3 linked regions of the Homo sapiens genome follow. The protein of the gene in region 2 purifies or fractionates together with the protein of the main gene of each other region. This does not show direct contact. Each region holds a gene or a part of one and is shown on either strand. Other genes may lie near its edges. The genes, in order: NLRP1, APAF1 and HERC4.

Evidence for each region.
Region 1: the proteins of APAF1 (region 2) and NLRP1 purify together in Homo sapiens (affinity purification with western blotting; one study listed by BioGRID). This does not show direct contact.
Region 3: the proteins of APAF1 (region 2) and HERC4 purify together in Homo sapiens (affinity purification with western blotting; one study listed by BioGRID). This does not show direct contact.

Annotation. Positions count from the first base shown.
Region 1 is NC_000017.11:5,513,518-5,516,201, forward strand, and holds the end of NLRP1 (NACHT, LRR and PYD domains-containing protein 1), read right to left. Parts: intron 2,001-2,684; coding exon 1,956-2,000; intron 1,557-1,955; coding exon 1,237-1,556; 3' UTR 601-1,236; downstream 1-600.
Region 2 is NC_000012.12:98,662,121-98,665,858, forward strand, and holds part of APAF1 (apoptotic protease-activating factor 1), read left to right. Parts: intron 1-335; coding exon 336-448; intron 449-554; coding exon 555-686; intron 687-2,930; coding exon of another isoform or gene 2,931-2,959; exon of another isoform or gene 2,960-3,238; intron 3,239-3,432; coding exon 3,433-3,671; intron 3,672-3,738. UniProt on the Homo sapiens protein: Oligomeric Apaf-1 mediates the cytochrome c-dependent autocatalytic activation of pro-caspase-9 (Apaf-3), leading to the activation of caspase-3 and apoptosis. This activation requires ATP. Isoform 6 is less effective in inducing apoptosis.
Region 3 is NC_000010.11:67,953,284-67,956,783, forward strand, and holds part of HERC4 (probable E3 ubiquitin-protein ligase HERC4), read right to left. Parts: intron 1,848-3,500; coding exon 1,680-1,847; intron 1,456-1,679; coding exon 1,312-1,455; intron 1-1,311. UniProt on the Homo sapiens protein: Probable E3 ubiquitin-protein ligase involved in either protein trafficking or in the distribution of cellular structures. Required for spermatozoon maturation and fertility, and for the removal of the cytoplasmic droplet of the spermatozoon.

The sequences.
Region 1 (2,684 bases), on a different chromosome or scaffold from region 2:
AACAGTTTCAGAGAAAAATAATTAGTCCAGTGTTCCAGCCTGTGCCACTGCAGAAAAGATGGAGTCCCTATAAGTCATTCGATCAGGTACGAAGACATTTCTATGCCTCCAGAGCAGGTAGGGATGATGGCCCCTGTTCAGCATGAAGCAGTGACAGAAGATAGATCTCTGTCCTTCTACAACCTCTTAAGATTAAGGACGAGTATGTAATGTCTGAGGTGGGGATAAGATAGGAGGTTGGCAGGACTGGTTTCACAAAGACTCCTCGTATAAAACAGGATGTGGTAAAGAAGCCAAAACCCATCAAACCAAGATGGTGATGAAAGGGACCTCCGGTTGTCCTCGCTGCTCATTATATGCTAATTTTAATACATTAGCATACTAAAAGACATTCCCACCAGCGCCATGACAGTTTACGAACGCCATGGCAGCATCTGGAAGTTTCCCTAAGTAGTCTGAAAGGGGGAAGAACCTTCAGTTCCAGGAATTCCCACCCCTTTCTCTGGAAAACTCATGAATAATCCACTCCTTGTTTAGCACACGATCAAGAAATAACCACAAAAATAGCCAACCAGCAGCCAGTCGGGACTGCTGTGCCTATGGAGTAGGTAACTTCTTATTCCTTTATTTTCATTTTTTCTTTTTTGTATTTTTTTAATTCTTAAATTTAAGTAAAAAATTTTTAATTTATAGGGGTTTTCTGGTAAAAACTGGAAAGCCTGCTAGACAAATTCTAAAAGAGCTGTGATACTCCTTTATTTTCTGAATAAACTTCCTTCCACTTTACTCTGTTGGCTTGCTCTTGTAGATCTTCCTGTACAAAGCCAAGAATCCACGTGGCCTCCCACGCTGAACCCCAATTTTGGGGCTCACCCTGTGACACAGCCAGAGGCAAATGGTTCCATGTCCCTCCTATTCCTCTTTGCGCCTGGATGGGATCCGGAGGGCTCTAGGCTTGGCTGCTGTGGCCACCAGATGAGGCTCTATGAGGTCTGCAGGGGTCTTGCCAGCTCCAGATGGACATTCCCTGAGATGCTGTTAGGCCACCTGGACTGGGGCCCCCTGTGGCATCCCTGGCATGGACACATAATGCCCAGCAAAGGCATCATCAAAGTTCCATTACTTTAGTGCTGGAAGGCAAACCAGATGGCAACTTGTTTGCAGAGAAAGAAACTGAGACCCAAAGAAGGGTCAGCCAAAGCCAGGACTCAAGGGTCAAGGGCTGGTGTTGATACTTCAGCTGCTGAGTGGCAGGAGTCCCTTTTTGCTGCCCTTCTCCCAGAGTTCCATAATGAGGTGAGGATGGGTCTCCTTCAGGGCTTGGTAGAGTCCATCTTTGCACTTCCGGTCCCAGGACTGGCTCAAGCTGAACAGCTTCCGCATCTGGCTGGGCCTCGTGTTCTCAGCCAGCACCCTCTCGTACTGCTCCTGGCTCAGCACCTGTCCATGCAGTTTGTCCAAGACAACCTCCACCGATGTCACTCGGGCTATCAGCTGCTCTCGATACTGGTCCACAAAGTGCAGCAACTGCGGGGCATCCAGAGGTGAAGGTACGGCTGGCAACGAACAAAGAAGGGCTCCAACCACAGCCTCCACCTCCAATCCCCACCTTCAGTGCTTTCCTCTCTCATCTCTGCATCCCTCGCTTCCTTCTGCCTCCAGAAATGCACCTGTGTCCTCCCTCATGGCAGCATCTAGCTTGGCATTCTGCCAGAGTGGGGATCGGGAGTGGGGTTCCTGCTGGGCACATTGGAGGCTGTCAGATAAGGAATTCTAGGGTCTCTGTGGATAGGACAAGGGGGTATGGGGAGCGACCATGCACCGCTCTCCAGGGCCTGACTCTTTGTGAGGTTTGCAGTGATGAGTCCCTTCCTTTCTCTCTTCCCTTCCCCCAGAACCAGACAGTACCCCAGAACTGCCACCGCCTCCTGTGGTCTCTGAGAGCTGTTACTGACCTATGCGGGCTGGAGGGATCAGAGTAGTTGCAGGCATGAGATCTCCTGGAGGAAAACAGAGATGAAGATGCATCTGAAACAGTGCTAAGTTATTAACACACATGGTACACCTCCAAGCTCCCACTCACTTCTGAGATTCTTTGATTTAGAAAAAAGCCACAGACAAATTCTGGTAGAATCTGGAGTAAGAGCTGGAAGGGTCCTTAGAGGTTATTTAGGTGAATCCCTTCCTTATGCATATGGGGAAACTGAGGCTCAGAAGCTGTGATCATACAGTAATAGAAGACATCCAAATGAGCGATAGCAATTTCTCCTATAACATCCCAGACTTGGTTTTAATCCCGTGTTGGCCTGAATTGTATCCCTGGTGAACTAACCAAACCCCTTGCTAGATAGCTTGAACTATTTAGCACCTCCTTGTCTGAGCAGAAATCTACTTCCTTGTTCTTGTTTAGCCTTCTAGACTGGCACCAACCAAAGGTGTACGTTCTGGATTTGGATGTCAGAATCTAGAATCAAGATCAAGCAATCTTAGGACATGGGAATAACAAATTAATTTTAACAGAAAAAACAGACAACGACAAAAATGAAGGGACTTAAAAATTGCTTTGCAAAGGAGAGAAAGGGGAAGTTCACAGCAGCTCGCATGTACAAGGCCTGAGAGTCTGAGCAGGCTCTAAGTTCAGTGTGATCTCACAGTTCAGGGAGGTGGGCACAGGGGAGGGAGTT
Region 2 (3,738 bases):
TCCCATTACTTGGATAGTAATGGTCGCTTTTTTTTTTTTTTTTTTGGCACTCAGTAAGTGATGGCTGAACCTTTTATGGTAGGATCTGTAATTTTAATATGTTCTGATTTAGGGTTTGAGGAGAAGGCAGTCTCTAATTTTTTTTTTCCTTATTTGAATCAGCATATTGAGAAGAGTATAGCAAAGAGGAAGAATCATTTTCCTAGATCTAGCCATCTATTTGTTTTAAAAAAAATTTAATTTGGTAGATTTTAAAAGACACTGGTGGGATTATCTTTTTAAAAGGAAGCTTAAGATAAGTGTCATTAGTGATTAATATTTTTTTTTTAAATTAGGTCTCTCTTGATCTTGGATGATGTTTGGGACTCTTGGGTGTTGAAAGCTTTTGACAGTCAGTGTCAGATTCTTCTTACAACCAGAGACAAGAGTGTTACAGATTCAGTAATGGGTAAGGATTATTCGTTTACTTTTTAGTACCTTTATATTTAATTTAATTACATTTAAATATGTGACATACCAAATTACTTACTTTGTCTTGTGATTTTTGTTTGCAGGTCCTAAATATGTAGTCCCTGTGGAGAGTTCCTTAGGAAAGGAAAAAGGACTTGAAATTTTATCCCTTTTTGTTAATATGAAGAAGGCAGATTTGCCAGAACAAGCTCATAGTATTATAAAAGAATGTAAAGGTATGGTTATTTATTTGTTTATGAGGAGATTATAGGGAGTTATATAATTTCCCTTTTGTTAATTGAGCTAATGAATATGGTAATTTAGCACATGAACATCCAAAAACTTTTCTGGGAGATTTAGTATTTTAGGTTCTCTGATATCTTAAATGGATACATGATATTATGGTATTTATTTATTCATTAAAATAATATTTACCATCTACCCACAGTGTGTTAGAGACCACATTAGTGAGAGAAGTGAGACACAGATGTGACCTCTGCTGTTAGAGTTAAAAATAGAGTGAGAATCAGATTTTAAAACTTGTTTTTGCTTGGGATTTTATAAAAATAGTGTTCTAATTTGGTAAGTAAAAACTGGTGTCTTAATTTGCATTTTTTTTTAGCGAAGTTAAACTTTTTACTTGTTTATTGAATACGTTTTAAGAAGTTATCCTTGACTTTAAGAAATTATCCTTGACTCACTTTTCTTTTTTGATATAAGTATTTTTAATTTATTTCTAAATACTCAAAAAATAGAAACTATTAGCTCTTTGTCATATTTTTACAAGTATTATTTCCCAGTAAAACAATTTTTTAACTTAAAATTTATATATAGAATCTCGCTGTGTTGCCCAGGCTGGTCTTGAACTACTTGCCTCAAATGATCCTCCTGCCTTAGCCTCCTAAAGCACTGGGACTACAGGCATGAGTCACCATGTCCAGCCTGTTACCCAGTTTTTTGTGTACCTTTTATTTGTTGTATTCTTTTGACATATAGAAGCTTAAAATTTTAAACAGTCAAATCTATCAACTCTTAAAATTATTTCTTTCATTATTGTTATGCTTGGAAATACCTTATTTTTCTTCTTTTTCTTTTTTTTTCTCTTTTGAGACAAGTCTCACTCTGTCGTCCAGGCTGGAGTGCAGTGGCGTGATCTCGGCTCACTGCAACTTCTGCCTCCCAGGTTCAAGCAGTTCTTCTGCCTCAGCCTCTCGAGTATCTGGGACTACAGGCATGTTCCACCATGCCTAGCTAATTTTTGTATTTTCAGTAGAGACGGGGTTTCGCCATGTTGGTCAGGCTGGTCTCGAACTCCTGACCTCAGGTGATTGCCCGCCTCAGCCTCCCAAAGTGCTGGGATTATAGGCATGAGCTACCATACCTGGCCACCTTATTTTTCATTCTGCCATCAAATAGACACACAGTTTTGTTTGTTTATTTATTTATTTATTTATTTTATTTATTTTTTGAGACGAGTCTCACTCTGTCGCCCAGGCTGGAGTGCAGTGGTGCGACCTCTGCTCACTGCAACCTCTGCTGCCCAGGTTCAAGTGATCCTCCTGCCTCAGCCCCCTAGTAGCTGGGATTACAGGTGCGTGCTACCTCACCCAGCTAATTTTTGTAGTTTTAGTAGAGATGGGGTTTCATCATCTTGGCCAGGGTAGTCTTGAACTCCTGACCTCGTGATCCACCTGCCTCAGCCACCCAAAGTGCTGGGATTACAGGCGTGAGCCACCACACGTGGCCAGTTTTGTTAATTTTTAAAGAAATCTTACACTTAGAAAAAATGCTTAATTTGTAGTTATTACAAAGGGTGATGCATGTCCATTTTGAAAATGTGTGAAACTAAAAAAAAAATAGAAATTATCCATAACCTGATAATTATTAGCATCATGAGAGTATTGCCTCCAGTCTTTTAGAACAAAGATTTAAAAAGTTGAGATTATGTATATGTGGTTTTGGATTTTGCCCTTTTTTTTTTAAAGAGCCAGGGTCTTGCTCTGTCACCCAGGCTGGAGTGCAGTAAGATCACAGCTCACTGCAGGCTTGAATGTCTTGGCTTAAGCAATCCTCCTGCCCCAGCCTCCTGAATAGCTGGGACTGCAGATACCCACCACCACACCTGGGTAATTTTTAAATTTTTTTGTAGGGACAGGGTCTCACTATGTTGCCCAGGCAGGTCTCAAACTTCTGCCCTCAAGCAATCCTCCCACCTCAGCCTCCTGAAGTGCTAGGACTACAGACACATGTCGCCACACCCAGCTGGATCTTACCCTTTTTCTATATCTTGAGCATTTTCCCATGTTGTTAAATATTTTTTTGAAAAAAATTTACCAGTGGCATAATATTGATATATCTTAATTTATTCAACCACTTCTGTATTATTGGACATTGTTTACGTTGTTTAAGATTTTTTCACTATTCTAAGTGTGCTGTGATGAATATCCTTAAACTTAATCATTCTTTTCTTTTTCTTTAAGACAGAGTCTCACACTGTTCCTCAGGCTAGGATGCAGTGGTGCTGTCATGGCTCACCGTAGCCTCAACCTCCTGGGCTGAAGCAATCCTCCCACCTCAGCCTCCTAAGTAGCCGGCACTATAGGCACACACCACCACACCTGGCTGATTTTTCTAATTTTTATTTTTAGTAGAGACAAGGTCTCATTATATTGCTTAGACTGGCGCATATATATATATATATATATATATTTTTTTTTTTTTTTGTAATGACATCTTAGCCAGATTTGATCTATGTTATTTTGACTTAATAAAGATAATCAGGAACTTACTGAATGAAATCTTTCTTATTTCTAATTTTTTTTGGGATAAATATCTAGAAGTGAAGTCAAGAGTGATAAATACTTAAGGCTTTTGATAACATGCAGCAGAAATTGTTTCTTAGTAATGTAAGTAAGTAAGTCGATTCTTATTAGTGACAAAATAGGATGGTATTAGCATAGTGACTTCATTTTTTTTTTAAAGGCTCTCCCCTTGTAGTATCTTTAATTGGTGCACTTTTACGTGATTTTCCCAATCGCTGGGAGTACTACCTCAAACAGCTTCAGAATAAGCAGTTTAAGAGAATAAGGAAATCTTCGTCTTATGATTATGAGGCTCTAGATGAAGCCATGTCTATAAGTGTTGAAATGCTCAGAGAAGACATCAAAGATTATTACACAGATCTTTCCATCCTTCAGAAGGACGTTAAGGTGCCTACAAAGGTAATGGGATCAATGATCCTCATCATTGGGTATTTATTGCATGTAAGCTTTGATATAGTACTGAGCA
Region 3 (3,500 bases), on a different chromosome or scaffold from region 2:
AGAGTATAACAATTTTAAATTATATCAAAACTATATTATCTGGCTGTCTATCTATATTAGGGTATACTCTTTGTACAAAAAGAACTGAAAAACAATTTAAAACATTTTAGTAATCATAATATTGGTGGTAATGTTGGTACTGTTAGGCAGTAAATGTGTAAGATAAGTCTGGAACATTCTGTCATAGTAAGTACACAAGGTAGCAAGGAAGGTACCAAAAAGTATATAGGTTGTTTCAAAAGGACTTGGGCACCAACCTTAAGAGCTCTCCTTGAACAAAGATGGGACAATATGAGCATCAATGAAGACAATAACTGCAGTGAATTGAAAAACATCAAGTATGTTTAAACCTATGAATACCTAATGATACTTGAAAGCAAAACACAAAAAATGAATTATTACCAGTGGACTATGCTAATGAACCAATTCATTCTTTTGAAAAATTGGTAACTAAATAGAATCCTTTCCTATGAATTGCACTACTAAGGAATCAGAAAACGTGAGGAAATTTCTCTATACAGAAGTATCCAAGCTAATAAATGAAAAAGAAATATTAGAGTAGCACACCATTTTGCAACCCCTGATGAATTAGAGTCTAGGCACTAAGCTGCTAACATTACACAAGACAGCCAACCTCCAGGCAGAATGATTAAATATTACATTGAGGTTTTTACAACCAATAGCTATTCTATCTAAATTTCTTTCAAGTCAGGAGTTCTACTAAACTGATCCATCCTTTTCACTTATGATCACTAAATTGGGTCAGCAAACTTTCTATAAAGAACCAGATGGCAAATATTTTGGGGTTTCCTGGACATAAGGTCACTGTTGTAATTACTTAAACTCTGCCGCTGCTATTGTAGCATGAAAGTAGCCTTGGACAATAGGTAAAAGAGTGGGTGTGACTTTTTTTTTCTTTGAGATTAATGGGCTATAGTCTGCTGACCTGCTCTAAATGACAAGGTAGATAAATCAATGATCCCTAATGATAAATTAATTTTTCCCAACAGAAAAGTTAATCTGGTGATTATTATTCAATCCTCAAATTGAAATCAGCAGAAGGAATAGTCAACATTATTTTCTGGCTAACCATCTCTTAATTTATTTTGTTAATTTAAAATGTGTGGTAAGCATCAAATGTATTTTGACAACTCCAAGTCCAAAGTTTATAATTTCTCAAATTGTAATAAAGCAGATCTTATATGTTAGGGATCCAGTAGTAATTCCTTATTTACTGAATTAACTTGATACATACAGGTATAAATACATGGGTATATACACAGAAGTAATTTAGATGGTTGGACATTTTACCTTATCAGAAAACCAAATGAGCCTGGAATCTTCATAATACCTAAACATGCCGTATTTAGGATCCAATAATTCCCTCATGATGAGCAAGAAAAATTCTTTGCGCACCCCTCCTGCATCCACAGCATCTTCTCCAACAAATATAACCTAAAATAGCACAATGCAAACACCAAATAGACTGTAAAGAAATGAAAGTACATTCTGGAGACCCTAGAACATGTTATTTATTACTAATACTCTACAATTAATAGTTTAAAATAAATATAATTTTATTTATTAAGTTTAAAAGATTCACTAAAAACAAATAGGAAAATTTTAAACATAGCTTCTGAATAAAAGTCCCAATTATACCACAGAAAATGTCAAATTACCTTGAGTGGCTTCTTGTAATCTATGTTCTTTGTTTTCCTAAGGACTTCCATTGCATCTCCTACAATATTTTCTCTACGCACCACTAGAATTAAGCAGGGATTCACAGATTCAATCACTGGGAGAAAAAGAGAGGAGACATTCTGCCTGTGGGCCTGATCAATAGCCATCTGGAAAACAAAAGATTAACATTTTAACAGCAATGCTACAATAAAGCTACTGTGACTGAAACAAGCTAACCTCTACCTATTAGTTACAGGTATTCTATAATTCCTATGCTACTGAATTAACATAGCACCTAACAGTATCCCGTACAGCATAAAACTTAATAAACTGAGCATAAAGAGTACCCTTTTGAATGTTTTTATACTAATGTATAATGTATAACTCATAACACCATTAGAGTAAGCCAGTACAGAACGGTAGTAATACTGATAAATCTGAGCATTGGTTTTTCTAAAAAACATTCACTGGAGGGGAGGGTAAAGAGGGAGGAGCAAAAACAAACCTTTAAAGAGTATAAGGAACAGGCTGGGCGCAGTGGCTCACGCCTGTAATCCCAGCACTTCGGGAGGCCAATGAGGGCAGATTACTTGAGGTCAGGAGTTCAAGACCAGCCTGGCCAACATGGTGAAATCCTGTCTCTACTAAAAATGCAAAATTAGCAGGGCGTGGTGGTGTGTGCCTGTAATCCCAGCTACTCAGGAGGCTGAGGCAGGAGAATCACTTGAACCTGGAAGGCAGAGGTTCCAGTGAGCTGAGACTGTACCACTGCACTACAGCCTGGGCGACAAGAGCGAAACTCCGTCTCAAAAATAAAAAATAAAAAACAAAGAATAAGGAATGATCTGGCTAAGGAAGCATTACACAAATTCACTTAACTAAGTGATCATGGTATGTGCTCACGAACCAAGGATTTGACTTTTACCATTTAAAACTTTTGTTCTTTTATTATGGTTCTCCCTGAGTTCTTGTTCTAAAATGGAATATCCCATGGTAAAATCACCAAGTTATTAACTTATCGTTTTAACAAAGACCTCCAAAAAATTGGCTTACTAGCTGTTAGTATAGAACACTACAAAAATATTTAGAATACCAAATGCATTTATTTGAACAGAATAAAAATGGTTACCAAGATTTGAAGGTTTTTAATTTTTTAAAATATTTTTAGACTATTAAATATTCAAGCTTTCTTTTCATCCTTTCCTTAATCCTTAGTTGGTATAGTCAGATATTCTATACCAGAGGAAGCAGCTCAAAATCTTTTTTATTTACAGGATCAAATGATAAAGCAAACTTACTGTAACCCTTTAAAGTCATAATATGAATTAGTTTAAAAAATCCTCTCTATAAATGAAAGAACTCTCAACATAAAATGGATGGGAAAGGGTGATAGGAAGGGGAAAAGAAAGAGGAATAGGAGATAATGGTGACCAACCCCAGGAACATGTTTAATACCTTATTATTGAAACTTTCTTCAAGGAAATTTCACATCTTCTTCCTAACGAGATCAAATGCTTCCTACTTTTAACATCTCTCACCTCTAGTGACTTCCATCTCTTACCAAGCATATAAAAAGGGGACATATAATGAAACAAGATTTTGAAACAAACCAACATCTTATCAAGTAAACTAGTAAAACGGTTTATAAAGATTGAATATTTCTGTAATGAAAGAGGCTTATACAATTTTTAATATATAAAATGATTATAGGTTAAGTTATTCCATTTTCACTGCAACCTTTTTTTATAAATGTTCTCATAAGAATATACATATCACATGCAGCAGTCTTCTTTATAGCTACCCAAAGTACTTTGTGTACC